Linked DNA regions of Homo sapiens. The protein of the gene in region 3 purifies or fractionates together with the protein of the main gene of each other region. This does not show direct contact. Each region holds a gene or a part of one and is shown on either strand. Other genes may lie near its edges.

Region 1 (5,983 bases), on a different chromosome or scaffold from region 3:
GTATTAAGAGGTGGGATGCTTAAGAGGAGATTAGGCCATGAAGGCTCTGCCCTCGTGAACAGATTAATGTCATTGTCATGGGACTGGGATTGTTAGAAAAGCAAGTTCAACCCCCTTGTCCGGCTGTTCTTTTGCACTCAGCCTTCAGCCATGGGTGATGCAGAAAGAAGGCCCTCTCTAGACACCAGCCCTCCACCTTGGACTTCCCGGCCTCTACATCTGTGAGCCAAAGAAACTTCGTTTCCTAATCAATGACCCATTCTGTGGTATACTGTTACAGCAGCACCCAGAGGTCTAGGACATCTGCTGAGCCCTGCCTCTGTGCTGGGCAGGAGGCTGAGAGCACTTCTTCTCATTGAATTTTCACAGCAACCCTATCTATGCACGAGGCACCACAAATGTCCCCCTTTGGAGACAGGGTGGTTTCATGACTTGCACACAGGCAGCGAGTAGAGGCTTACTCACAGCCAGCCCTCTTAGCTCTCAGGCTGTGCTGCTGGTGGCCAACCCAGTTCTGGCCTGAGGACACAGGCATGATGCACAGGAGGTGCCCAGTAATGACTGTGCAGTGAAAGGAAGCCCGAGTCAGCCTCAGCATCAGGAAAGGGCTCGTAGAAGAGGTTTATGTGGAACTCATGCAGGAAGAGAAGGTGATGGAGGCCGCTCCCAGCAGGAGGCACCACCTGTGCAAAGGCCAGAGGCAGGAAACTGCATGTGGTGGGCAATGGTGAGAGGCTGAACCCTGTGGGAATCAGGTGGTGCATGTGGTGGCCAGGACGTCCAGGTGGAGTGAGCAGAGAGGGTCAGTCTCTGCCCCTGCGCCCCACACAGAACCTGCCTGGAACCCCTCCAGGGCTTGGAGAGCAGTGCCGAGCAGCCACTGAAGTGGGCAGAGGGTACGTGGACTATACCCTCCCTGCCACCAAACTACCACCCCAGCCCCTGGAAGCCTGTACCTGTGGAATAGGGCAGGAAGTCGTGGTGGTCGCGGACACGCCAGGTGACATTGAGAGCGTGCAGGGCACGGAAGTAGTCGCCCAGCGTGGCATACTGCACCGAGACACCGAGCTCGGCAGCATGGCTGTTGATGTGGTCCAGCAGCGGGTCCATGTTGGCAAACTGCACCGAGGCATTGAAGAACTGCTTGTCACATCCCTGCAGGGACATGGGAGCAACATCCTGTGCCGTGGGAGCAGGGCGCTCGCCCAGTGGGGGTGGGCCGATCGCTGCCCTCCACCAGCTGCCCTCCCAGTCTCCAAGGCGGCCAACAGGGGCCCCAAACCAGCTCCCATAGCAGTGGCTTGATCTCGGCTCATGCAACCTCCGCCTCCCGGGTTCAAGTGATTCTTCTGCCTCAGCCTCCCTGAGGCTGCAGGCGCCACCACACCTGGCTAATTTTTATATTTTTAGTAGAGACAGGGTTTTACCATGTTGGCCAGGCTGGTCCCGAACTCCTGACCTCAGGTGATCTGCCTGCCTTGGCCTCCCAAAGTGCTGGGATTATAGGTGTGAGCCACAGCGCCCGGCCCTGGGCATCTCTTAAGGCCCATCAGTGTTACTACTTATCCAAATCATTATAATTAATGATTATTAATTATTATAATTAATATAATGATTAATAACAGCAATAATAACCATGACTGAGTTACTGATCTTAAGCTTGCCTTCACAAGGGCAGTCACGGATGAAGAAGGCAGGCTCTGGGGCCCGCCTGACTGGGTCTGAACACAAATTCCACCCCTTCCTAGCCACCCTAAGGAACTCTGTGGCCTCAGGAAAATTCCTTAACCTCTCTGGGCCTTGGTTTCCTCAACTGTGAAATGGATACCAGCCTGCTTCCTAGGCCCAGTGGTGCAAATTAGATGGCTGAGACAAATATATCCCACGGGGCAGTGCCCAGCACACAGCAGGTGCTCACTAAAGGTTAGCTGTGACGATGGCCACGACGTGCCGGGCACTGGCTTCCCGGGAACGCTTCACCTCTCACCAAGCCTATGAAGCCTGCTGCCACCATCCCCATTTTACAGCGGAGGCAACTGAAGCTCAATGGACTCTAAGGCACGCAGTGCCCGAGCCGGGAGCCAGCCCGGCCCAGGCAGGGAAGAGAGCTGAGTGGGAGCTGGAGAGGCCAGCGTGGGTGAGGGTGCTTTTCCAGGTGGGGGAGGGGCTGGTAGAGTGGGAGAGGCCCAGGGGTCTGCAGGGAAGGAGGATGGAGCCACTGGGCTGAGCATGGCTGCCTAGCTGGGTCTGGATAGGGTGGCCCTGGGTGCAGGGACCAGGGCTTGCATAGTGCTCCTTGGGCTGTGTTGAGGGCACAGCACCTGGGACTCTGCCTTACCCAGGGCCAGAGGACGTGCGGTGTCCGGAACCAGGCGGCCCTCTGCTTCACGTTGGCCACCAGGGCCTCGGCATAGAGGTTGATGTTGGCTGGGGTGACAGGCTCACTCATGTTGGGGTACACCCCATCTTGGGGAGGCTTGGGGAAGACAGCCACGCCATTCCAGTAAAATCCTGACCTGTGCGAGGGCAGAAGGTTAGGGCAGAAGACACGAACTCTGTGGACAGCCAGGGCTCACACCCAAGTGCCATGTTCTCCCAGCCTTGGGACCTTGGCACATCATTTCACCCTGAGACTGAATTCTCCCACTCCATGACCGACGGTGGGTCACAGATTTGTTTGCTCATTCACGCAGGCCAACTTCTCGCCCATCAGACCCCGGGTCTCAGGACCCCAAAGAGGCCGGGGGCTTGGTGAGGCAAGTGAGGCCCTGGCCTAGGGCACAAAATTTATGGGGGTGCCTCAATTCTTAGTAGTTGAGATAAATGATATTTTAATGCAGTACTTTAAAAAATGAAAATTAATGCAAAAAACCCATGAGGAACAAAATGTCAGAGTTTTAAATAAAGACAGGCTCAGTATTTAACATCTTTCTCTGTTTGCCTTAGGCTGGGGGTGTGGAGAACCCCCAGTTAAGTGCCTTCCTTGCTCACACTGTGCAGCCTCGGGGTAGCAGCCATGGAACCCTTGTCTGGAGCTCTCCAACCTGGGCAGCCCCTTCCAGCATTCCCACCTCTGTTTCTTTTACAGACAGGGTCTTGCTCTGTTGATCAGGCTGGAGTGCAGTGATATGATCACGGCTCACTGCAGCCTCGAACTCCCGGGCTCAAGCCATCGCCTCAGCCTCCCCAGGAGCTGGGACTACCACCATGCTCGACTTGTTTTTGAATTTTATGTAGAGACGAGGTCTTGCTCTGTGGCCCAGGCTGGTCTCGAATTCCTGGGCTCAAGCAATCCTCCCACCTCAGCCTCCCAAAGCATTGGGATCACAGTCATCAGCCACCAGCACTGCCACCTCTAGCCTCACCAAGCTCCCTGGTAGAATGTGGAGCAGGTTGTTGTGAGGATTAAATGAAAGTCATTTATGGAAAGGAGCTAGAAACAGTGCTGGGCACAAAGGAGGGCTGACAAATGGCAGTGACCGCTAATTAATCCCGGCCAGTGTTCTTCACCCCCTCTGCCTTGCCTGTTGTCTTTCCTCTTCCAAGAGAGGCTAAGCACCTGGCCAGGGCAGAGTGCGGATTTGAACCCAGGGCCGTCTGACTGCACAGAGACCAAGGCTGACTGCTGCCACCACGTGGAGGCTGCAGAGCTGGTGGCCTGAATCCAACGCTGGCTCCACCACGTCTGCCAGCTGTGGGACCTGGGGCGGGCTGCTGTGCCTCAGTTTTTCCTTCTGTAAGATGGGGCACTCACAGCATCTCCGTCAGTGGGCTGCTGCGAGGGTCTGTGAGGTATCACAGGGAGAATGCTTGGAACAGGGCCTGGCTCATGGTGGGTGCTTGGAACAGCAAGCCAGGAATGTGAATGTGGGTTCACTGCCTATCCTCTCTGCCCCCGGGGGGTCCTGGTCCATGGCTCCACACTCCTGGTCCCCACTGAGTCTTCACCCAAAGCCTTCTGGGGAAGAAGGTGTACAGCGAGGCTAAAATCCCATGTGCTTCTTGACATCTGAGCCTTGAAGGCCCCCAGGGGCCTAGGAGTCCCCTGCTGTCACCTGATAGCCCCCACCAGCAGAAAAGTCCTCTTGTCTAGCTCTTCCACTATCAGTCAGACCAGCTGCACCCCACCTGGTCCTCCACCCAACAGTTTCCACCTCCCTGCCAGCTGGTGAAATTATTCAAATGAGCCACTCACGTCCTCTGCAGGAGTCGGAGGGCACCCGCCCCCTTGCTGCTACCCAGCTGCCCCTGCGTGTTCAGTCCGCTCCACAGTGCACTCCCACGGGGCCTTGGCGAGTAAGGTGTGAGCTGTGATTGTATGTGATAAACAGAAGCTGCTATGGACGTCACCTGTGCTGGGTAGGGTGGTGTGTATTCAACCATCTACCATTTAGGGTGAGGACCCCTCCCTCACCACGGGGTGAACGGGAGGTGATTGGACAAGAGGCAGCTCCGCAAGACAAGGATGAGGAGCGATTTATTCCCAAGGGTCTCCAGGCCCCTTCCCTCTCCCACTCCTCCAGCCTTCTTTTTTTTTTGTTTTGAGATAGAGTCTGATTCTGTCACCCAGGCTGGAGTGCAGTCATGATCTTGGCTTACTGCAACCTCCATCTTGTGGGCTCAAGTGATTCTCCTGCCTCAGCCTCCCAGGTAGCTGAGATTACAGGCAATGCTGCCATGCCTGGCTAATTTTTGTATTTTGACTACAGACAGAGTTTTACCAGGTTGGCCAGGCTGGTCTCAAACTCCTAACCTCAAGTGACCCACCTGCCTCGGCCTCCCAAAGTGCTGGGATTACAGGTGTGAGCCACTGCGCCTGGCCTCCTCCGGCCTTCTTCATTGTGATCCCTGATAGGGACAAGGATGAGGAGGGGAAAGGGTGGGTGGGGACGAAGCCTTGTGCCAAAGCCCCAACAACAAAGCCAGGCCACGTCAGGAACGGGTGGGGAAACACCCATGTCCGGGGGCCTTCCCCCTGCATCCACAGCACCCCTATCCCTGCACCTGCAGCCTGGAACCCAGCTTGCTCTCCAGGCCCAGGCGGGATAGAGGCAGGGAGATCACTGGGGTTGAGGGCAGGTGAGCTTGGAGGGTGTTAGAGAGACACTGGACAGTGCCCTGGAGGACCGTGGACGGGATGGGGTGCCGATGGATGGCTCCTGGAAGTCAGCACATTCAACTTCCTCACCTGGCAGGTACGGACAGGCGAGGCGAGAGCAGAAGGGGACCTGTCATGGCCAGGAAGGAGGTTCTTGGGAACACTGATGTAAAGACCTCATCATTGATTGATTGATTGATTGATTGAGACAGAGTCTTGCTCTGTGGCCCAGGCTGGAGTGCAAGTGGTGCAATATTGGCTTACTGCAACCTGTGCCTCCCGGGTTCAAGTGATTCTCCTGCCTCAGCCTCCCAAGTAGTTGGGATTACAGGGATGCGCCACAACACCCAGCTAATTTTTTTTTTCTTTTTTTGTATTTTCAGTAGAGACGGGGTTTTGCCATGTTGGCCAGGCTGGTCTCAAATTCCTGACCTGAAGTGATCCACCTGCCTTGGCTTCCCAAAGCGCTGGGATTACAGGCATGAGCTACTGTGCCCGGCCTATTTTTTTTTTTATTTTAAATAGAGACAGGTTCTCACTCTGTTGCCCAGGCTGGAGTGCAGTGGTACCATCAGAGCTCACTGTAGCCTCCAACTCCTGGATTCAGGCGACCCTTCTGCCTCAACCTCCTAAGCATCTAGGACTGCATGCACCCAGCTAATTTTTAAGTTTTTGTAGAGATAGGTTCTCACTAGGAAGCCCAGGCTGGTTTTGAACTCCTGGACTCAAGTGATTGTCCTGCCTCAGCCTCCCAAAGTGCTGGGATTACAGGCATGAGGCACCGCACCCAGCCAAGATCTCATCCTTTAAACAATCCTCTTTTGGGACAGGGACTCATAACAAGAAGCAATTCAGAGTCACACAGAACTGGAGTCAAATCCTGCC
Region 2 (5,983 bases), on a different chromosome or scaffold from region 3:
CATTTTGATAAGCCTCTATAGGCAAGCCCCTTGAAGAAAAGGATGTCACTATTCTGATTTTTGTCCAGATAGCTGCAGTTAATTAAATGAATTGAAAAAATTAGAAACTCTTAGAGGGGTGTATGTTGCATGCATCAGCCTGGCTCTGATGAGTGTCACTTCAACATTGATTGGGATGTCCTGTACCTGGGAGGGAGAGTCAGGCTCTGGTTTCTGCAGAGGGCTCTGGCTTTTCTCTCTTTCTGATAACAGGGCCTGCAGCCACTCACCCTGATCCTCTCTGTGCTGCTCCTCTCCCTGTGGAGGCCCCTCTCTCCTCTCTGGGATCCTGGGGGAGCTGGGAACCAGTGACTCGTTTGTCAGGTTTGGCAGCCCATCTGAGGGCTTCTCTTTGGAGACAGAGCCTGTGCGGCTCTTGCAAAAGCTTGTATCTAGGAATGTGAGGACCTTTCCTGTTTGGAAGCCAGTCAAGGAGTTTTTTGAGAGGGGGAGCCCTTCAAGACTTCATGAAGTGGGCTCTTTAGCAATTAGATGTAGAATTTTGTAGAACTGACCAAGAACTTTACAAGTGATCATTTAGTGTGTGGGTGGCTTTTAAACAGCCAAACTCTTTTGGCGTGTACTTTGGGATCATAAATTCTACTTAAAAGGAAGTTGTTTCCTTCCTCTGATATTTGCCTATTTTGGTGGAGACAAAGAAATTAAATACTTGCCACCCATAATGAGTGCTCATCTCAAGAACAGTATATAGAAGATGTTGAATAAATTTTAATTGAAATGAATTTGTTGGCTGGTTGAATGAATGAATGAATAAAATAAAGTGCTAAATGCCCAGAGTTCACAGCAAAAAGTCAGACTCTCCTCTTCACAGCTCTGTTTACTACTCTCTTCCCCCCTTCCCCATCCCCTTCAATTCTTCACAGTCTCTACAACCTCCTTATCTTATGGAATTTCTCTAAATTTAGAACCAGGATTCTCTCCTATCTCACATTTATTATGGCAGATCAATGCCAGGAGCTTTGAAAGCTTAGCTTTTTGAAATGGGGTTTTTTCTCCTTCCTCTAGTACTTTTCTTTCCCTAGTTGATTTTTCTTTATTCTGACTAATGTATAACTCTGAAGTTATTGAGTCCACATTAGTTGATGATGTCGACTATCTTATGGATAGACATGAGGCAGAACAGCCTTTGTTTATATTTGGCAGTAGTTGTGGCTTCCTAGTATTGAGAAGCTCTAAAAACATTTCTTGCTTTTTGTTTTTGGAAAAGTCAAGCTTTGCTGATGAACAATCAACAACTGGAACAATAACAAATAAACTAGGCACCTGTTACTTTGTGAATTGAATGAATGAAAAAAGCAAAGCAAGATGTTGTTTTTTCTGGGTTAGAGAACTAAAAGAACTGCTGATTGTATTTTATTTTCTCTTGAAAAGTGTGTTACATCTATATTTCTTTATCCTATTAGCAAAACCTCAAAACCTTACTTTGAAATTAAACATTGAAAGGAAAAATTAACATTAGAAAAGAGCTAGAACAACTGTGGGAGTAGACTTAGAACAAAGGGAAGAGCCCATTCCTTCCTTGCTGTTTCCTTCAGTGAAATGTGATGTTCTTCTCTGTGCCCGAGTTTGTCTGTCTAGCAGAATGGAAAGGTAATGATACTTACCAGTAAATAATATTTCTAAGAGTCACATTATTTGTGAAGTAAGTTGTGTTTTAAAAATACCTTCCCAGTTCCTTACTAAATTGTAAAAGTAGTGTGATTTAGTGAGAGAGAGACAGTTTCAGAAGCCTAAACATAACAGCTTTTTGAGAATCAAGCACTGTTCACAGATCTTTAGGAGGAGCGGTCGCTGAATGAAGGTAAAGGCAAAAATCTCATCTTGTTGAAAATATGAGGGTAAACAGAATGTTAAGGAGTGATCCTATAAGGACCTGGGTGTTGAATTGGCAGCTGATTCAGGCTCCTGGTCCCTCTCTGGTCTGTGTTGGCTCCTGCAGTGTTTATAACATTCACCAGCTGCCTCTGTGACACCTCCCAACCTCCACCCTGAGATCCTGGACACACACCCCGGCTCTTGGCCTCTACCACCTTCTCCAGTGACTCTCCTACCATTTCAACCATGGCTGTTTCCCAGTCCTACACCGTGAGACTCTCCTGGGCAAAGCCTGTCTTTTGCTCCTTCACATCCTCAGCATCAAGCATAACGTCTGGTGCTTAAGTAGACACTTGGCTGTTTGAATTAGTGTATGAATGAATAAATGAATGGTGTTTACAAACATATAAACAACTAACCAAGCATAATGAGGTGAATGCTCACTAGAGATGCCCATAAAGGTGTTACAGAGGTTCAGAGAACAGAAATTATTCTATAGGGAATCACAAACACCTCTGAGTGGCAGCATTTGAAGGTTAGGAGGCTTTCTAGGCACAGGGAACCACGAACAAAGTGTAGAAGCATCCAAGGACATGGTACAAATGGGGACTATTAAATAGTCTGACAAAGATGCAGTGGAACTGAGCCTGGGAGGGACGTATGCAGCCAGGTTACAACTCACCTTGAATGCCATGTTGAGGAGGGGTTAGGGTGTCCTAGGGTGTGGGCTCTAGAGCTGGCTGGCCCACCACCACATACTTGCCACCTGACCTGAGGAAGACCTGTTAGCCCCTGTGTCTTTTTCTCATCTGTGAAATGAGGATAACCCTGATGCTCGTATGAAAGGGTAGATGGAAGAGGAAAGAGAGTGATGCTGTGAGACAGTAAGGAGGCCTTTTGACCAACTAGTGCCTAACACAGTGCCTGCCCATAGTGGTCATTTAATAAATGGATGAATGAATGAATGAATGAATGATGCAAATGAGAGATGCTGAGTGCCTAGGGTTATAAACTAGGGCAGTGACTGCAGGATGGACAAGTTAATTTTGCTGATTGCTCTTAGCTCTGAAAGAGTTTACATGAGAGAAGTTTGAAACCTTACAAAGTATATATTTTTTAACCTATGTTTTACCAATGCGTATTTCAACTATTAATCTAAATTGACAAATGGTATTTGCAATAATAAATAATATTGCTTATGAAATTATATTGTTAACTTGAAGAGGAAATTTTAAAGAAGGTTATGTTTAAAAACAATTTGGAGGAATCCTGAAAAAGGGGAAGTTCTTTGCACGTTATGATGCTTTGCTTGCATTCTGTTTCTTTCTTCTTTTATTTGTTTTTTACAGGATGTTTCTCTCTCTCTCTCTCTCTTTTTTTTTTTTTTTCCTCACAGCTGAACACTTTCCAGGCAGTTTTGGCATCTGATGGGTCTGATAGCTACGCCCTCTTTCTTTATCCTGCCAACGGCCTGCAGTTCCTTGGAACCCGCCCCAAAGAGTCTTACAATGTCCAGCTTCAGCTTCCAGCTCGGGTGGGCTTCTGCCGAGGGGAGGCTGATGATCTGAAGTCAGAAGGACCATATTTCAGCTTGACTAGCACTGAACAGTCTGTGAAAAATCTCTATCAGTAAGTAACATTGAGCTGAAGCCCTTTCCTATTTGAATATAAGGACTTTTAGGAAGTACCTGAACACAAGTGACCATAAGACCATTACATAATATATTGGTGGCTTCTAAGTAAGGCATCAAGTCAAAACCAAGGAACTAGATTCAACCCTGGAAGGATCAAGTTCACCAAAACATAAAAGGTCCTTTATTTTTCCTGCTCTATTGGGTATAGATACTGGAAACAGAACAGTATGTGTGTGTATTTGTAGAGCCACTGAGGCTTGCTATGAAAAACATTGCTCTTGGAACCACATAAAAATATCCAGTCATAAACTGCCCAGTTTGAGGTTTTCCAGATTAATCATTTCACAGGAGGAAACATTGTGATTTAGTCTTTTGGACAGATACTGTTAAACATTAAATTGAGCAATGTAATTTGCAGGAAAAATAACTAAGATTTATAGGTTTCCAGAAGTCTGAGGATGTCTCTCTGGCTTCATTACCTAAAATGAATTGAACCCATTCCTTAGACTCATCAGTGTCTGCCCATAATGGGCATTTAATAAATAGATGGGTGAATGAATGAATGATCCAGAGGGCTTACTTAGCTAGTGCAATAATAAGCTCTTCTGCATTTTGCCAGTACAGATAGTGCCAGTAGGATATTTATTGACTTCAGGGTTTTTTGGGGGGTGTGTGAGGGGAGGTAGGGGTGCCCTCGCTTTTATTCGTTTCCTGAATATAGAAGCCAGATAGAATACATTGGTTACTTCCTGGCCTCCTTTAACTGCTTCTTGACTTCATTAAATCAATCCTGGGTAGGTATAGAAACACCTTACACTTTTAGCATGCCATCCACTCTGCTCGGCTACCAGAAAGAGACCACTATAGCCAGGTTTGCTTACTCAGAGCTGACATTTATTGAAAACTTACTACTTGCCAAGCATCATGCTAAACACTTTCCAGATGTTATCTTAATTAAAACTCACAAGAATTGTAGGTTAGTACTACTATTTTCCCAGTTTTACAGAGGAGCTTAGGGAAGTTAAGTAAATTGCCTATGATCTCAAAGTTAAGTGGCAAAGCCAAAATCCAAGCTCAAGTCTGGAGTGCTGAACTACTTATTTTATCTTATGCTGAGTCCTTGTTTCCTTTCCCATCCTTATGATCCACATTGGGCATCTTTAGGGCTCCATCTAGGCTGCCGCTTAGTCTGGACTCTGGAGCAAACTCAGTTCCTTACTCTCCCTCCTCTGGTTCCACCCTCTCTTCTACTTGGGAGCTCATAGATTTATTATTCCATAGATTTATTATTATAGAGAGGTCACAATGGCCAAGCACATGGAATACAAAGATTTCTAAGACACTGGTCCTGCACATCAGCAGCTTGTACCCTATTAGGGTTGATAGACAAATAGATCAACAATTACAGAGCCCTGGGTAAGTGCTGGCATCTACACAGGAGACAGGAGACAGTGGGGCCAAAAGACCTGTGGGAAAAAGCAGTTGTGTTCCCTGAGCAGAGCCATAAAGGTCTCTTGGAACTAACATCCACAATCACGTGTGACACACAAACACACAGACAGCATTTCCACTTACCCCCTTTCATGCCTTCCCTCATTTTTATCTTTGATACTTCCCAGAAATCTCTGAATTGCTTGGCGAAAGCAGAGTAAGATATGGGGCCAAATGACTCACGTATTTTTCTTTATTGTAATCCATGCTTAATACAAATAATAAAGTACAAGCAATGCAGAATAATGTGAAATAAAAGTAAAAGTTATCCATGATCACTACTTCAAGTGATAACAAGTGTTAATGGTCCTTCTAGAATTTAGGTATATACAAAACTTTTAAAACCAAAATGGTTCTTTTGCTATGTAAGTGGTGTTTTCACATTAATCACTTCTTATAGGGGTCTTTTAGTCAGATGTCTGTCTATACTACCATTTTAAGGCTACAAAACGTTATGTCATATATGTATAAAGACAGCTTATTAATGAACATTTCATGTATTTCTGATTTTTCTTGTTATAAATATCATTGCAGTAAACAGCATAATAAACATTGCTCACATTCTCGTTTCTCCCTAAAACAAATTCTTAAAAGTGGAATTGCTGAGAAAGGGTGTATGATTTAAAAGTTGTACATTTCAGATTGTCAAAGTTACTGGTCTTTTCCTTTCTGATTTTGGATCTTGTTGTTATTCTTAGGAAGAACTTCTGTACATCAAATTTATAGAAATGTCCTTCAATATAATCTTCTATTTCACTTTTCATTATTTAAAATTTCAAAAATATACAGAAAAGTGGAGAGAATAACTAGATGAACACCCAAATGCCCATCACCTAGATTTATACATTGTAAACATTTTGCCATATTCATTTTTTTGTTTGTTTACATTTTTTTCTTTTCTTTTTTTTTTTTTTTTTTTTTTTTGAGACGGAGGTTCGCTCTTGTCGCCCAGGCTGGAGTGTAGTGGTGTGATCTTGTGCTCA
Region 3 (5,983 bases):
TTCTGGTGCCCAGGCTGAGGTTGGGTAAGTGATTGATTTATCTTCCACAAAACAAGCCCAAGAGCTGCTTTTCTGTCCAGGCCCTGCCAAAATCCTGGAAGATGGAAGCTCAAGAAACTGGCTATTTTAGTACTTTCAGGAAGTTTTGAAAGAGAAAATGAAAATGTTATGATATATGAGGATTGGTTGGCTTTTTCTCCTGTTTAAAGTGTCTGTGTAGAGAAGGAGAGTGTGGCAAAGAGCTCGACCACTAATTGCCTATTTAATGTTGCCAGCATACTTGATCTCTCTGTGCTAGGGATTTTATATCTAATGATCAGAAAAACTTGGAACACGATAGACTAATGTTTTCCAAAATTTTTAGAACAGTTTCTTGGCCTCGTGTATGGTGAGGAACTATGTATAGACAAAGAATAGACCTGGAATCATGAGACTGGAGCTTGTTCTAACTGAGTAGCTCTGGAATCTTATATTAGTTCCTTGATCTTCTTGGCTTATCCCCTTCATTTGTACAATGACAATGAAACCATAAGATAGTTTTATTGGATTTGTCTATGATTTCTGTTGTTGTGGAACAGACATTTTTCCTAACTCAATAAAATGCAGTAAATCCTGTTTTTTTAAAGAATGGAAAACTTTCCCTTTTCTTGCTAATATAAGGAAATTTTAATATGTTTAATGAATGACAGTACCTTACTAGAATTATTCAGTGTGCTAAGGCAATCTGATAGGAAAAGATTAATGATGTTGTAGATTGTGTGCTGACAAATTGGAGCCTCCAATGCACATAACTGACCACATCTAAAACTTTTAAGTGTAAAATGCGTTCATTAGTAACATCTCTTTTTTCTTGCTAGTCTTCAAAGCATGGAAATACTAAATGGATGGAGAATTTTTAGGGAATGAATCCGTCTCACAGTTAAACTTTTGTTATAGTTCATTCATTTTGATTATATAATGTTTTTACTAATATTAGTCATTAAATATTTTGTAATTGTAATTTTGATTTGTTAACTTCAACCAAGAGTTATTTTAAGTAAGTGCCTTTTAAATTATAAACAAACATGCAAGAAAAGGAAATGATTGGTGCTTTAGTTATTTTTCATTATCTTTAGCAAATGTGACTAGGTTTTTTTTTGGAAGTGTAAATGAGTGAAACTAAAATTTAAATCTTGATTTTTCAAAGCGATTTAGTTTCTGTTCTTTTAAAGTATACTTGTCTGCATGTTTGCTAGAGCAAAGGCTGTTGCACTTATAACTGTCATTTAGTAGGCTGGTTTTGCAGAGAGTGTAAAAATCAGGGCTGGATTCCTTCCTCTATATCCTGCACCATTAAGAACACAGCAACGGAACAATTTTTTGAGTAAGACATGACAGAAATATTTGGTAGATTCCGTCATTGTTTAGCAAATAATCTGGTTTTCCTTCCCCTGCATGCAAAGAGTAAGTATACTTCCTGCCCTGTTGTTGTTGGGTTTGGCCTTATGGCTTGCTTTGGCTGATGAGATGTGAGAAGAGATAATGTATACTATGTGCTTGCATGATTATGCTCTTATTCTCTTTTATAAGAAAAGCATGCCCCTTTCTGCCTAGGACTCAGAATGACAGACACGTGGAGCTGATTTGAACCAGCCTGGAGCAGAACCATCATAAGCCAGTTCATAGATTTTATGTTCGAAAAGCAAATGTTTGTCTTTTAGAGCCACTGAGATTGTGGGGTTGTTACATGGCATTATCTAATCAAAACTTGACTGAATTAAATCATTCATCTAAGTAAAAGAAAATTAGGCAGATTCAGTGATTTTTTTTTTTTTTTTTTTTTTTTTTTTGCTTAGGATTATAGGGGAAAGAACCAACTCAGCCCTGGTGATCTTCTTTCATTTTAATAAATTTAGTATGTTATTTTAAAGTAGCATATTTTCTTTCTACTTTATGCAGAAATCACATTTCTTATACTAGGTTTATCAACATCCATTATTTCTTTGCATATGGCTCTAGAGTCATTTTATCTGCTTTTCAGGCTTATGCAGATTTCAACCATGTGAAACATGAATATAAGTATGTCCGTGATTCTTTTTTAAATGATTTTCACCTACATTTGAAACATGTTATATTAGTCATGGCCTCTCCTTTTTCTTTTTCCTTGTTAAATGAATATTGTGAATTCATGGCAGAAACTTTGGGAATCTTACCTAAATCCAGTATAAGTGACAGACTTAAGAGTTTAACTGTTGTTTGTTTTTGCATGCAAATCATTAGTCCATTTATTTATGCATGCATTCATTCATTTAGCACCTGCTACGTGTCAGATACAGTCCCAGATGCTGACAATATTAAGAAGAAGGATGAAGTATTATCTCTTTCCCTAAAATGCCTTGTAATCTACTGGAGGTCAGACACAAAGACAAGTAAATTTCAGGAAGAGAAAAGTATGAGGTATTATGGCACCACATAGGAGTAGGAAGACCTACCTCAATTTTGTTGTGGCAGGGGATAGGGGAGTGTGCAGGGGTGAAGGTAGAGAATAGAGTTGGAGAAGGAGAAAGTTATCAGATTTTCATTCAAAAAAGTTCATTTTATTAAAATTTATTTATTAAAGTTATTAAAATGCAGGGTAGGGAAGAGACAGGAAAGGTCAAAATTAAAAACATGAAATGAGGGAATGTTTATATTCTTATTCTTTAAAGATAAGAAAGACATTTCATTTTATGTATAGAATTCTGTTATTTTAAAATTTATTTTAACATTGATCTAATTGATTTTTCCAAATGGAATAGAGAGATGGAGACTAGATCACATCATTAATTAAAATTGCAAAGTAATGGCCGGGCGCGGTGGCTCACGCCTGTAATCCCAGCACTTTGGGAGGCCGAGGCGGGTGGATCATGAGGTCAGGAGATCGAGACCATCCTGGCTAACAAGGTGAAACCCCGTCTCTACTAAAAATACAAAAAATTAGCCGGGCGCGGTGGCGGGCGCCTGTAGTCCCAGCTACTCGGGAGGCTGAGGCAGGAGAATGGCGTGAACCCGGGAAGCGGAGCTTGCAGTGAGCCGAGATTGCGCCACTGCAGTCCGCAGTCCGGCCTGGGCGACAGAGCGAGACTCCGTCTCAAAAAAAAAAAAAAAAAAAAAAAAAATTGCAAAGTAATTTTATTATAATTAAGAAATTAGAAATACATGAGGGAAAATTTTAAATATTTTATACTTATCAATACTATATTTACTTTAAATATATTGATCTGCGCTTTACAAAAATAGCATGCTATTTGTTGTTTGCAGCTGTAAAAGCAAATTCATTTTGATATAGGATATTTCAAGTTGGATATTGCTTAAATATGGTGTCCTTTATGTATAAAATGGAAATTTAGAAAACACAGTGATGTAACTGAAGGAAGAATTACCCAAGGAAACATTATGTAATAGTATGAAAATACCTATACACTAGGCAATTTGCTTTCAACTGAATTTAAAAAGCAAATACCAAAGTTATTGAGAAATCTAGCTGCCCTAGCAGTTACTACCCTGGCAATACTAACAATATGCTGCAAAAATTAATTTGACCTTAGTTTTTTATGACAGAAACTTACTTTTATAATATTACTGTAATCTCATTTAAAGTAGAAAATTATATTTTTTTTAAATATTATTTAACTTTAAAATTAATTATGTGAAAACAAGTAGCACTGATTAATGTAAAATACATTTTGCTTTAATTGGGTAATTGAAAACAGAGGAGTTTCATATTGCAATAGAAGTCTCTAGTTCCATAAATACATCATAGAGCCTGAAACCTAAAATTAAAACAGTATCAATACATTTATTAGACTGCCATAAAGATTTTTAGTTGATGTTGGTAAGTCAGTAAAACTAGGAATAAAAGTGAAAATCCTCATTCTTTGTTTTATGAATCTGAAATAGATTGTCATCTAAGAGAAGTATCTTCTGTATTTTTTACCTTACTAGTTAGAAGTAGCATACAGAATGGTTTTACTAGCCATAATTAGTTTGTCTTGATTTATGTATAGCCAACCTTAAGTTAAAAAATTTTAGTCTGTGCACAGTATTTTAAAAATATTTGTAATTACTGCTCTCTATGTTTACATATATATATATAATGTATGTATGTGTGCGTATATATGTATGTAGGTGTGTGTGTGTGTGTGTGTGTGTGTGTGTGTGTATGGGATATCCAAACCATAAATACCTAGGCATCATGAAAAATGTCCTTTATAACACTAGTGGATATTATTTTTAAGCGATTTCATTATAAATTCTTTAATAGAAGTTAATGTATATTATTTTGTAAAATGCTGTTTTAATGATATGGAAGAATTTATATGTAAATAAATTTGCTAATGACTTCTATTTAAATTTAAGCTTAATGGTCACATGCCTGAAAAAAATCCAGATTTTTCTGGACCATATTTTTTTGGTCTTTTTCCTAAAAGAAACATATATCTGAATATAGAGTATTTCCTATATATATTATATGGGATACAAATATGTAAGAAACATTTTTATAAGGAGTAAACATAAAAAGAAGCATTGCACAGCAGTTAAGCATTTGAACTCGGAATTCAGATCATCAATATTACCTCCAACAAACTGGGTGACCTGGAACAACTTACTGAACCTTTCTTAAGGTTCTGTCTATCTTTGATTACCTCACTAAGAAAACAGAAATACCTTAGGGAGTTGTGAAGATTAACCAAGATAATAATATAAAATGTTTAGCATGTTATTTAGCAGTAAATTTTATTGGTAAAAATTCTCTGGTAGTTTCTGTGTTCAATAAATATTCATCTTTAATTAAGGTGATTAAATCAGTTACTTTATTAAATATATTAAGTATACTTCTAATTTTACATTATAGATAATTTATCCCCTAACTGATTTTATTGTTTGTTTTAGGTTACTTTTCACATAGAACCATATAGCAATCGAGATGATCAAAACATGTACAAAAATGTCAAGTATATTATAGACAAGTGAGTTTCTTCAATATTTATAAATATTGTTATATTATCCAGTGATAATTATTGTTTTAAGAATAGTACATTAAATTATATTTGAGATTTGAATGATTTATGATTATTCCATTTTTAATAAAATTAAATTGTTATTGTAATGAATGTCACCATCATTTCGAAGAACATTGCTGAAGTTTCTTATAATTCACTTTCTTTTTGGAAGATTGCTGTTTTTACTGTTTTACAGGTTTATAGGCTATTTATGATTTCTGTAGTTTTGATATTTTAAAATGACATTATTTTCTAAACCTTCAGAATATAGCTTTATCTTTTTAAAAAGAAGGTTCAGATTATTAAAAGTGAACTACTTCTTTTAACACAGTAGACCCAGAGCTGATATTTTCATTTATATCTAGCCTGATCAAAAAGAATTTATTAATACAGTTTTCATTTTTTGAAAGAATTTTACTGATAATAGTCTGTGACAGATGCCATAGTCTTACAAAGAAACTTGTCAGCAACAGTAGAACATTTATCACTGATAGATAAAAAAGCAGTTTAGGTATTATGTAGAGTATTATTTATAATGTAGAGACATAGGCTTTTTATGGCATTAGTCATCATTTGTAAACCTCAATATGAGATGGTTAATACTTGTTTGGTAATGCATCCAGTATCTCATTTTCTAATGTGTAAAATTAAAAATGCATTTTTAATTATTACACTTACACAACTGATTCCCCTAAGAAATGGAGCAGTGTGCTCAAACTGCACTGACTCCTTCATTTTCAGTAAACAGTTTTTGTCTGTGGCAAATTAGTTGTGAATATTCATTTCACTTTTATATATGCTTATTTTCTAGATATGGAAATCATCCGGCCTTTTACAGGTACAAGACGAAGACTGGCAATGCTCTTCCTATGTTTTATGTCTATGATTCCTATATTACCAAGCCTGAAAAATGGGCCAATCTGTTAACCACCTCAGGGTCTCGGAGTATTCGCAATTCTCCT
Region 4 (5,983 bases), on a different chromosome or scaffold from region 3:
CCACAGCCCAGGCCATACAGGGTTAAGAAGACTGAAGCATGCCAGAAACCAGTTTGAGACTGAGAGTTTAGTGCTTGCCAAGAAAAGAGAATCCTGAGGCTAGAGTAGCCAGAGAAGCCCTCATGGAGAAGGTGGAGTTTGAGCCAGGCATTGAAGGATGTGGAAGAGTTAGGCAGGCAGTATCCATGAGTGACCATGTGTTCTCTCTCTGTCCTTAGATCGTTTGAATACAGTGTGGCTAGGAGTAAGCAGAGTGTGCTGTGGGAATATGCAGGGCACTCCCCGTTTTCTTAGGAACAGGCAACAGGACAGGACATTTCTCACCATTGGGGAAGGAGCAGGACCTCCACCCAGCAGAATTGCTGCATTGTGGCAACATGGAGCTCTCTGCCTCCTTCCTCCCAGCTGGCCCTTCTGGCCCCATCCAAGAGTCATCCAGAGCAGGACACTTGGCAATGCCTCACTGCCCTTCAGCTTTCTAGATTTTCCTCAGCCCTCTGACGGGAGCCTCTGTTCATCCTTGGTGGTTTGGACTCTACCCACAACAAGAATGCGGATTCCTGTTAGGATGGCTTAATGCTTGTGCTTCTGCAGGACCAAATCTGAGAACCCCCAAGTGGCATCAGGACCCTCTAAACCCACCCATATAGTTCCATATGCTGCCCTTCTCATGCTGGTCTCTTTGCAGAGTGTGCGTGTCCTCTCACTGACAAAGCTGATTGTCCTCCAGCATCTTGCATGAAATCTTATTTCCCCAAGAAGGCTGTGTCCCCACACCCTCTGGGGCAGAATTCACTGCTTCCCCTTCAGGACTCCCTGGAACCCTGTTGCACTTCATCATGGGTTGTCGTTGCTAATTGCGCAGGAGTCTGTCTGCCCATTCCATGCTGGGGTCCTGGGGGACAGAAGCCTGTTTGATTTTTCTTTGTGCCCCAGGACATCTTACTGTAAATTAGAGAATTGGTGTCAGTTGTGTTAAATGAGCTGGTTCACAATGAAGTGGTGTCTTCTGCTTCCTGATCTTGGGCAGCTTCTAGGCCTTAATATCAATTTCTCTGGAAAAATGGGTAATTTGGGACTCTTTGCACATGGAGGGGATGGGAGCACACTGGTTAAAATAAAATCCAAAGCTGTCTTGGAAGTGGCTTTGTAAGTACTGTGAGAGGAAGTGGTTTATTCTTTCAACACAGAAAAAATACTTCATGAACTCTACTGTCCACCAGGATCTGGGGACATAGTGATCATGCACTCTCTCTCTGTCCTTAAATAACTTGACTACAGTACGGCTAAGCAGAGTGTGCTGTGGGAATATGCAGGAGGAACACCTGACTCACCTCAGGTGGGTCAGTCAAGCCAAGTTATAGGTGACATCTGAGGGCTGTTGAAGCCAGTGAGACACAGGGTGATGGCACTCCTATCAAAGGGAACAGCTCGGACAAAGGCCCAGGCATGAGAGAACAAAGCTATGTGCCCACAATAAGAGAAGCCTAGACAGACAAGAAGGTGGCATCTTGGGAGGGTAAAGCAGGAAATGGAATAAGTAAGCAGAGGCCAGATCATAGAGAACCTGGTGCTGTCTGAGGATTGCCTGTGACTTCTGGCAGGAACTGGTACTCTGTGGGTCCAAATGGGTCCAGTAAGGACAAATTACACCAGATTTATTTAATTTTCTTTTGGGGTAAGGCCTCTGGACTGTCTGATGAGAAGAGAGTGGTGTTTCAGATACATGGTGAGCAAAAATTATAGGTAGGGTGGTAGTCCAGTTCAGTAGCTTCATAGCTGGTTTATAGTTCTCTCACAGGACTGTTTAATGATTAGTGTCAGGTGAGGCACAGTGGCTAATGCCTGTAATTCCAGCACTTGGGGAGGCCAAGGCAGGAGGATCACTTGAGCTCAGGAGTTCAAGACCAGCCTGGGCAACATGGTGAAACCTCATCTCTACGAAAAATATGTCGGGCATGGTGGCATGTGCCTGTAGTCTCAGCTACTTGGGAGCCTGGGAGGTTTGCAGTGAGCCAATATCATGCCACTGCACTCCAGCCTGGGCAACAGAGCCAGATCCTGTTTGAAAAAAAACTGATTGATGTCTGTCCAGGCAGTGGTTTCCTAGCAGCACCTCCAAGCCCTGTCCCAGGAAACATTCTTATCAGTGACTTCGATGAGAATAGTGATGGCATGTAAACCAAGTTTACAAATAACAGGAAGGCAGGAGGTACAGTAAAGACAGTGTATGATAAGACCCAAAAAAGCTGAAACTTTGTAACAAGATTTCAAACTGGAATATAGTGTCCTGTAGGGTAATGAACAATCCATCATAGAGTACATTCCAGTCTCTTTTTTTTGAGATGGAGTTTTGCTCTTGTTTCCCAGGCTGGAGTGCAATGGCACGATCTCAGCTCACCACAACCTCCGCCTCCCAGGTTCAAGCGATTCTCCTGCCTCAGCCTCCTGAGTAGCTGGGATTGCAGGCATGCGCCACCACACCCAGCTAATTTTGTATTTTTAGTAGAGACAGGGTTTCACCATGTTTGTCAGGCTGGTCTCGAACTCCTGACTTCAGGTGATCTGCCCCCGCTAGGCCTCCCAAAGTGTTGTGATTACAGGCGTGAGCCACCGCGCCTGGCAGATACATTCCAGTCTTGACAAACACAGACATAAGGATGATTTAGGTGTCCGATAGTAGGTTGGACTAGACCAGGAGTTGGCATACTTTTTTCTGTAAATGGCCAGAGAGTAAATATTTTAGGCTTTTCAGGCCATGCAGTCTCTGTTGCAGCTACTCAACTCTGCCTAAAATGAAAACAGTCATAGACAATAATTGAAAGAAAGAGCATCATGGCTGTGTTTCAATAAAACTCTAGTTTGCAAAAACAGGCATCTTTCTGGATTTGGCCTGCAGGCTGTAGTTTGCCAATCCCTGGATTAAGGCCTGGTTTCCAAACACTGATCACTGAACAGAACTGGTCAGTAACTTTTAACAATTCATAGGGAAATAAGAAAGTTAGAAGCAAGGTAGTGAGTTTTATATAAAACTAAATTTATTCTCTTTAATTGGTCATCCTGACTTTCAGTATTCTTTGCTGGTCTTTTGCTGCAAAATACCTTTTTCTTTATGAAACGAAAGTATAGTAGGCAGCAGTTTTCAGGTTTGCCTTTGCTTATTAATAGCTCTACTGACAACTCAGTCCGCAGATTTCCTTTTGGAAATGTTATAAGCCTAGGAAATTTAAGCACCTGGGAACCACCAGCGCAGGAGGATACAAAGTGTGAACTACAGCCTCTCACTCTCATGTTCTGTCTCTCTTCTTCCCTACCTCCCGGGCCTGCTGACAGCGGTGGTTGGGGCTGGGATTGGGGGCTCTGCTGTGGCCCATTTTCTCCAGCAGCACTTTGGACCTCGGGTGCAGATCGACGTGTACGAGAAGGGAACCGTGGGTGGCCGCTTGGCCACCATCTCAGTCAACAAGCAGCACTATGAGAGCGGGGCTGCCTCCTTCCACTCCCTGAGCCTGCACATGCAGGACTTCGTCAAGCTGCTGGGTGAGTGGTCAGTCCTGGGGCTCCAGTGCCCAGCGCCCTGGGGCTGGTGACAGCACTGGGCCCTTCTCAGACTTCCCAGACCATCAAGGCCAGAAGGTCATGTGGCCCAATCTCATTTTACAGATGGAGCAACAGAAACAAGAGAGGGGAAGGAACTTGCCTGAGGTTACACAGTGAGTTAGTTGCAGAGCCGGGATTAGAACTCAGGTTTGACTCCTAGGCCAGTTTCTTTCCCTTTCAATTTGCTGCCTCTAAATAATCGTGATTATATCACCTTCCACATGCTAGTGCTTGCCAGGCACCTTCTGGGTGGTATGTAGGCATTACCTCAGCTCCCCTCTACCAACCTGCAAGATGAGTGTTATATCTCCTCTTAAGGCAACTGAGGCTCAGAAAATGTATAGATTTAAGCTAAAGCCATTACAGCGAGAGGTGGGATTCAAACCCAGCAGCATCTGTCCAATACACGTTCTGTTTGATGCAGAAACTCTGCTTCTCAGAAGTGATGCTACAGGTGGTCTTACAGATGTGCAAAGTAGCATAGATACCAAGTTATTCACTACAGCATTGTTTGTAATAGCAAAAGGCTGAAAGTATCCTAGCTGCCTATCCACTAGGACCTGGGGTTAAACAAATTATTGTATAACTACACAATAGGCTGTTCAGCAGTCAGAATGGGGAAGTCTTTATGCCCAGATACAGGGCAATCTCCAAGATACAGTGTATTGTTAAAGTGGAGAGCAGTGTGTGTAGTATGTGGGGGTGGGGAAGGAACAAGTCATAGCAGCTCTGTCTGTGTTTAGGAGTCCACTGCTCTGTCAAGTTGCAGAGTGCAGGATGGCTGTAAGGAGCTAGGATAACTTCCAAGTGATCTCAGTGCCCAAGGCCACCATCTCCAAACAAGCCCAGTGGCTGTCACCCCCTGGACATTCTGGGATAAAATCTGAATTTCCCTCACTTGTGGATCCTCCTGGGGAAAAAAAATGTAAAATGTTACATTATTTTCATTTTCATTTTTTTATTGACTTGGTAGTCCAAACATTTTCCCAGTGCATCTGTTTACTGTTTATTAACAAGCAGCACAAATGAACAAACCATAGCATTTGTGTTTCCTTTAATGGACCAGTCCATTTGCATCAAGAGGGCCCCAAGTCTTGGAGGGGACCTGAGGGGCTCCTCTTTGTCTCTGCAGGGCTGAGGCACCGGCGCGAGGTGGTGGGCAGGAGCGCCATCTTCGGCGGGGAGCACTTCATGCTGGAGGAGACTGACTGGTACCTGCTGAACCTCTTCCGCCTCTGGTGGCACTATGGCATCAGCTTCCTGAGGCTGCAGATGTGGGTGGAGGAGGTCATGGAGAAGTTCATGAGGTAGGGCTGGCAGAGCTGTGGGGATGGCGTTCCAGGGGAACCGAGAAGAGGTGGGGGAGGAACCAGCTTGCCTGTACTTTGTGAAAAAGGAAAAGGTCCTTGCTGAATTGAGCCAGCACAATTCAGTGCAGGCTCAGAGCAAGCCCCTGGCATGAGGAATGGCCGTATTTGGTCCAGTAATGGTCTCCCTAGTATTGTCACATTGACTCTCATTTTCTTACCCTCTACTACACTGATACTAATAAAAGCATGGGTTGCAAACTCAGTCGCTTAACAAGGGCTGAACTGGGATGCGAGTCAGTGAATCAGCAGGTGGAAGAGAGCAGAACAAGGCCCCCTCTGAAGGAGGCAGCCAGCCCTCCACCGCAGCCATCTGCAGCCAGCCGTGTACAATGCCCACCTCATGTGGCTAGATCTACTCACTTTTCAGAAGAAGCTGGAAATCCAGAGTCGTGTGTGAAATCTTTTCAGTTTTTCAACATTTGCAACCAATTCATCTTGTAAGCCAAATGAAACACTTCTGCAGGGCAGATGCAGCCTGTGGACCACTCATTTGCAAACTTTGTTGTCCTCATTTTTCCATCTAGAATAAACACCTTTCTTCACCACTCCTCCTATCCCTGGGCTCCAGCCCCCTCCCCATCACCTTTGGTCCCAGATGTGGAGGGCAAGTGGTCTGTTCCCTCCCTGTTCACCAAGCTGTCACTCCACCTTTCCCCAAAGTCCCTCCTGAAGGTGCTCCCTGCTTCCAGCCTAAGGCGCAGGGGCTGCTCCCCGGACCCCATCACTGTCTGCCTCCCTTCAGTGTCACTCAAGTGTGGCCTGTGCCCTCCTGCCCTGGTTCCTGGCACTTCTCCACTCCCTTCCCATTCTATAACTCTGCTGTTTATAGCACTTCTTCCTTATATTCTCCAGATGTCACCCAAAGCTTATTTCCTTACCTCTCTTTCTGATATTTTTCTCCCTTATCAATTATATCCAGACCAATAATGTTGACTTCTACGTTTTATGGGAAATGACTTCTCCCTCTCAGCCCTAGTTTCCTCTTCACTTCCAGACCCACATTTCAACTTTCT

The links.
Region 1: the proteins of MANEA (region 3) and MAN2B2 purify together in Homo sapiens (affinity purification with mass spectrometry; one large-scale study listed by BioGRID and IntAct). This does not show direct contact.
Region 2: the proteins of MANEA (region 3) and NID2 purify together in Homo sapiens (affinity purification with mass spectrometry; one large-scale study listed by BioGRID and IntAct). This does not show direct contact.
Region 4: the proteins of MANEA (region 3) and PCYOX1L purify together in Homo sapiens (affinity purification with mass spectrometry; one large-scale study listed by BioGRID and IntAct). This does not show direct contact.

The regions. Positions count from the first base shown.
Region 1 is NC_000004.12:6,589,706-6,595,688, reverse strand, and holds part of MAN2B2 (epididymis-specific alpha-mannosidase isoform 1 precursor), read right to left. Parts: intron 2,517-5,983; coding exon 2,339-2,516; intron 1,156-2,338; coding exon 957-1,155; intron 1-956.
Region 2 is NC_000014.9:52,057,645-52,063,627, reverse strand, and holds part of NID2 (nidogen-2 precursor), read left to right. Parts: intron 1-3,271; coding exon 3,272-3,504; intron 3,505-5,983.
Region 3 is NC_000006.12:95,599,916-95,605,898, forward strand, and holds part of MANEA (glycoprotein endo-alpha-1,2-mannosidase), read left to right. Parts: intron 1-4,911; coding exon 4,912-4,988; intron 4,989-5,832; coding exon 5,833-5,983.
Region 4 is NC_000005.10:149,359,304-149,365,286, forward strand, and holds part of PCYOX1L (prenylcysteine oxidase 1-like isoform 1 precursor), read left to right. Parts: intron 1-3,333; coding exon 3,334-3,540; intron 3,541-4,732; coding exon 4,733-4,907; intron 4,908-5,983. UniProt on the Homo sapiens protein: Likely to have oxidoreductase activity. Required in the mevalonate pathway to regulate prenylation and enhances the bactericidal activity of neutrophils.